Regions from separate parts of the Homo sapiens genome. Here region 2 is linked to region 1. The links come from fine-mapping of genetic effects on gene expression. A gene starts in region 1. The other region holds a variant in brackets. All regions are shown on one strand. Distances are between the middles of the regions.

Evidence for each region.
Region 2: its variant is fine-mapped to the expression of TEX30 in cerebellar hemisphere (GTEx, PIP 0.95).

The regions. Positions count from the first base shown.
Region 1 is chr13:102,772,545-102,775,458 of GRCh38, forward strand. It overlaps TEX30 (testis expressed 30), which reads right to left and starts at 1,242. Exons shown (of 6, transcript NM_138779.5): 1 at 1,138-1,242. RefSeq lists enhancers at 997-1,674, 1,675-2,352 and a silencer at 1,075-1,414.
Region 2 is chr13:102,698,021-102,700,934 of GRCh38, forward strand. It overlaps a transcript of METTL21C not described here. Among named protein-coding and RNA genes, the nearest start is that of METTL21C, 4.4 kb to the left of the region's middle. The variant G/C (reference allele first, on the strand shown) is at 1,182.

The sequences.
Region 1 (2,914 bases):
AATGCAATCCCCAAGCAACCTGCTCTAGGTCATCTGGGTTTGTTTTTTTGAGACAGAGTCTTGCTCTGTCCCCCAGGCAGGAGTGCAGCGGCGCGATCTCGGCTCACTGCAGCCTCTGCCTCCCGGGTTCAAGAGATTCTCCAGCCTCAGCCTCCCGAGTAGCTGAGATTACAGGCGTCCGCCACCGCGCCCAGCTAATTTTAGTAGAGACGGGGTTTCACCATGTTGGCCAGGCTGGTTTTGAACTCCTGACCTCAGGTGATCCACCCGCCTCGGCCTCCCATGGTGCTGGGGTCAGGCGTGAGCCACCGTGCCAGGCCACTGTCGTCTGGGTTTTCATCTCTGGCTTCAGGTTCAGAGAGGGCAGGGTTTGAAGCCTGGCCCGGCCTCAGTGCCCTCAATGGCGATGGTGAAGATGACCGGCTAGAGGTGCTGCGCCCACGAAACGCCAGCTCTAGTGGCGTCCGGAGCGCCGGCTCCACCGGCTAGGCGGTCGGCGGAGTTCTAGGACGACAACTACTCACAAGGGCTGGGCGATCACCTCCCACGCCACGGGACGGAGACGCCACAGCCCCTTCAACTTTCAGTTACAAACGTTCGTGCCCTGTTACGTCCACAGCATTAAGCTGGCTGTCGTGGGGCAAACAAAAACGTTGAGTCCGAGTCTTACGGGGGGTCGGGTCAACAACCCCAGCAAACATGGAGAGAAAATTCAAAGCGGGTCTCACGGGCGTGCGGGGCTCGGCGGCGCTCGGGGCACGGGATCCGTTCTCTCCGCAAATGCGCGCTGCCGGGGCTGCGCCGCGGGCTGCCCCGGTCGACCCCTCTCAACTCCGAGGCTACTTCGAGCCAGTCACCCGGGACTGGCTGACGTGGTCCAGGTTGGCCCCGTCCGGCTCTCCCCGCCCGTACCAACCCCACATTCCGCCCTCCTACCCGGCAAAGCGGACGAAGCCCCCACCGGCTGGTGCCCGCGGGCACCGAACTTAGCGGAACGCCTCCCGGCTCGGACCAGACGCCCCTGAGGAGTGACGCCCGCGAGCCTCAAACGTCTCAGGCGGGCCTGCCGGGTGCTCTCCCCGTCTCCCAGGAAGCCGCCCGTCAGCCGGCGGCGCCAACCGCCACCGCCGCACTTACCCGGGAAGGCAAAAGTGGCCGCGGGCACCCAACCGCCGTCACTCCCTTCAGGGAGCTGACTAGCGCGCTCGAAGCGACCGCCTCGCCTGCCCCGCCACAGCGTTCGGCTACGACGCACGCGCGCGCAGGCCACGCCCCCCGGGTGCGCGGGCCGGGCCGCAGAGCACGCCGGGAGCGTGGGTCTCCCAGCCCGCCACATCCCAGGGCTGTACGCGCGGACTAGCGGAGCTAGGGGAAGGTGCCAGGGTGGCCGCCGCCTCAGTAGCACGCGGACGGCTGGAAAGTCAGCCCCCGTTTCCGCCTCACCCAGGATTGCTCCACTCGGGGCCTTTCCGCATCCCAGCCACCACTCCATTCCGAGGCGCGATCAGCTCTGACCAGTCTTCCTCACACCCATAGTCGATTCGTTACTCCCGTTAAGGTCAAACGCTGACAGAAACCAGCCGCTTCGCACACTTCTACATGGGGTCAAGCCCCCTGTTATCTTTGCGGGGATGATTGTAACAATCACTTAAATGGTCGCTTCGTACCATCTTGCCCCCGCCTGGGCCTTGTCGGCGACGCCGCAGCCACGTGGATGCTGTGGAAGCCTGTCCCCTGGATCTTCCAAAGGCTCCGCGCTCATTGCCACAGCCAGCGGCCGGCAGTGGCCTAGGCTGTTGCACGCGATCGGTCCCCCACATCTCCCCTCTCCATCTGGCTCCTTTCCCTGGAAGCCCAGGGCAGCCCACACTTCGCTGTCCTCACCCCCACTCACCAGGCGGGACCCCACGACGACCGGCTTTTGTCCTGGCTGCTCCCTCCCAGCGTGGGCCGCGTCTCCTCGGGGTCGACAGGGCGCGTGGTTTTCACAGCGAGGCCTCCCCTGATCACCTCCCCGCTCTTCCTGTCCTTCCCCGGTCACCTCACGAGCTATGGATGTATCTGTGTCTCCTCACTGCGCTATAAGCTCCCAGGTGAAGAAAGGGTTGCTTTTTGTAAATTTTTGTTTTAACCGTGAACCTCTTGTGTATGAATAATGCTCAGAAAAAAAAAAATTTCTTAAATGAATGAATCTTCCCCAAGCCCAGTGCAGTTGGCACCTGCCCTCTTTTCTGTCACGGTACATACAAGGAAATACATTCCACAAAACCACATAGTCGCTGTCATTTATCACAAGTGTTTCCCCAAATTACAAAGTCTTAATACTTCTTTGTCTCCTAATTTTTTAGCTGTGTTTTTAAAAAACATTTCTTTACATGCCATAAAATTCACTCATTTGAAGTGTACCATTCAATCATTTTCAGTAATTTTAAAACCATTTGCAACCATCACTATAATTTAAGAACATTTCCATTATCCCCCTGAAAAGTATTTGCACAGTTATAGTTGAGGTAGGAGATCAGCAGGACTTTCCAAGCACTGATCACCACCTGCTGAGCAAAACAGGATCTGGTCAGAACAGGATGCCCTAAAAAAACGGCCAAAACTGCCCTAAAGAAACAGGCCCAAGCCAGCTAAAACCAGGATGGTGACCAAAGTGACCTCTAGTGCCCTCACTGCTCATTATACACTAATTATAATACATGAACATGCTACAACACTTCCACCAGCACTCTGACAGTTTACGAATGCCATGGCAATGCCCAGACCTTACCTTATATGGTTTAAAAACGGAAGAATTCTCAGTTCCGGGGAACTCCCCACCCCTTTTCTAGAAAATTCGTGAATAACCCACCCCTTATTTAGCGTACGATGAAGGAGTAGGTATAAATATAGCTAGCCAGTGGCCGGGTGC
Region 2 (2,914 bases), 75 kb before region 1:
GAGCGAGGCCAGGACAGTATCTGCTACAGCTTCATAAGATGCCGTTGCTCCTTTCCAGAATCAACAGGAGCAAGTGAAATTTTATATATCTGAAAGAATCTGGCACAGTGCCAGGTGCTCAGAGGGTCCTCGATAAATAAATGTCTCATATTATCTTGTATGTTGTTCAAACAGAGGGTTGAGTCCACAGGGTTCTTTGGAAGGGTTCTGGATCACTCACCTAATCATATGGAAAAGCTGAGCATCTGAAACCATCCCAATAAACTTTATTCATCAGGGAAGAAGGGAGGGAGAGAAATGAGACTAAAATGAGCTTGCAGCACACGCAGCATGGATCATGAGGTCGGCCTGTTCTCTGACGCACTTCCTTGTTGTTGTTTGTCTGTTGTCTTAGAATCAGATAGACCCTGTTACAAGATTATAGATCCCCTTATCTGCTCTAGAGATAACAACTAGAACCTTATGAAATGTTGTTTTCCTTTGAGATATTCTTTCACGTCCTACATGCCACTAAAACCACCCACATCAGCAGGTCTGAAGGACCCCCCAAGAAGCTGACTCACCAAAGCACACAGGCTCCACATCCTGATAATTTCATCCTCCTCACCCTGACCAATCAATGACCCCAATTTTCCAGCCCCTCATCCTCCAAGATCCCCTTTAAAACCCCAACTCAGAACTCTCGGGGAGATGGATTTGAGGGTCTTCTCCCATCTCCTCACTAGGAGCCCTGCAATCATTAAACTCTTTCTCTGCTGCCTCCTGGCTGTCTCAGTGCATTGGCCTGTTACTACACAGTGGGCATATGAACCTGTTGGTCCTATAACACATCGGCCTTGAGATATAAAGGGTCCAGGGCTGCTCTGGTTCCAGAGATATCAGCAGCAGGAGTTCATGGACCTTCTGTTTAAACATTGCCATTGAAGGTCACAACTGCAGTCACCATCCATCACTGTGTATCTATGGTCAAGATTCAATGTCTAGGGAAAAAGATTCCGAGTGCTCTTAGTCTTAAGTTCACCCCTATAGTCAGGGCTGGGTTGTGGGAAGCCTTGCACCAAACCACGAAGAGCAGGCTGGCAACTCAAAGAAGGGATGCAGGGCCATAACCCATAAAAAGCAAGGGTTATAATAGCCCTCCTACCCTTCTTCTCACCCAGTGCATACATACTTCCTTATTT[G/C]CATAAATACAACTTCACAGTGGAGACCCACCCTTTCTACAGTGGAAAATAACCTGAAGTCTCCTCCAGCTATTGCAACTAAAGGCAATGGAGTTGCACTTCCCAAGTCCAAACCTCTAGATGATGTCCATTTCTTCCCTGGCTCCGTTGCTTCTTCCATAACAGGCACATGATCCCAGGGGACCACTGACAATAACTTGATTGGCTGTTTCACCACAGCTCGCCCTGGGCTGCTATTCCTGTTCCCATCCCAGAATATGAATAGGAGACTCATTGATTTCCACATTGATCTTTCCTAAAAGGTCCACAAAGGATGAGATACTGATCAGGCAAATGCAAGACATACCCACCATGCCTACTTATAAGGGAGACTCAGTGGGAATTCCCTCCCAGAGAAGTGAGGGTTTCATTGGAGACACAGACCTTCTTCAAGAACCCTGGAACCACCGACATTCAATGTGTGTGATTTCCAGTGAGTAATGGAGAAAAGGTCAAAGTGAAATCATGCAATTTCATAACTTCTGGTCCCTCAATTAGCTGGTAACACAGTGGCCCAAATGTCAGAATCCTGTCTGTCAAATGGTCCAGGGCTGCTGCAATACCCCCCCGACCCAGCCCTGCACTGGCCAGACTTCTGGGGGAGTCCCCTGAGAGCAGCCGCTGTGACTGCCAGCTGCTTCTATATGGGATGCAAAGACTGAGGCCACTTAGAACACCTGTGCTTCAGGATTTTAAGACAGGATTCTTCCTGCTTTGGATTTGGCTCTGGTAACAATTAAATCCTATACCCACTCAGGTACAGTGTCAAATCTCCACCTGCAGAGAAAGGAATTTTGTAAACTAAAATTTGTCAGACTTGCGAACATGGAAAATATTACTTCTGTTTCATCTTAGATGACCAACATTACCAGTGAAGAAGGAAATAAAGCATAGCAGTAAAATAATCCAATAGGTTTGGAAACAGCAGTGAAGTTATAGTCTTTTTATTTTAAAAATAGCACATGCCTGTCCCTAAGCATTCGAGCCCCAGGCTTCACTGCAGGGGATGGCCTGGCTGTCCATAAATCACCTGCCTTGTAAAGTGGCTCTGATCAAAGGCCAGTGTGTTGCCTTGATAGACTTATATGCACTTTGGAGAATAGACATACTTAGTTGTTCGCTTCTATTTTTTATTTTCTTTCCCCAATCCAGTCCTTAAAACAGATTTCCCCTCAAAGAAATTTTATTGTAATTTTAGAAAAATCTCCAACTGCAACTATGTGTAAATCACAACGGGTAACTGCCAGGTTTCATGTTATCAAAATAGCCAAGAATGCTTTGCAGCTGAGCTATAAGCATGTGATATTAATTACACGGAGGAACGCTGTGCTTGGGAAACAAGTTTGGATGAGAAAGTCTGACACTGAAAATGTGCTTGAAATAAGGGATACTCTGGCAACGACATTTATTCTATTTTCCACTTTAATAAATGATACCTTTCTGCAGCTCACTTTAATCCTCAGATAAATGAAGTGAAATAAATGTATCAGTGTGGAAACACCATATCTTCACAGTGATTCAGCTTTGAAGCTGAGGAGGGGCAAGGATGCCTCGGTTCCTGTTTTACTGTGAGGCCTGGGAAGCAGCAGGAGAGGCTGCCCCATGACTCTGACACCCTACGACTCCCAGCCAGGAGCAGATGCCTCCAACGCTGTCCGTTCTTTCCATAGCGCCGTCCGCTGCTTGGACATGAC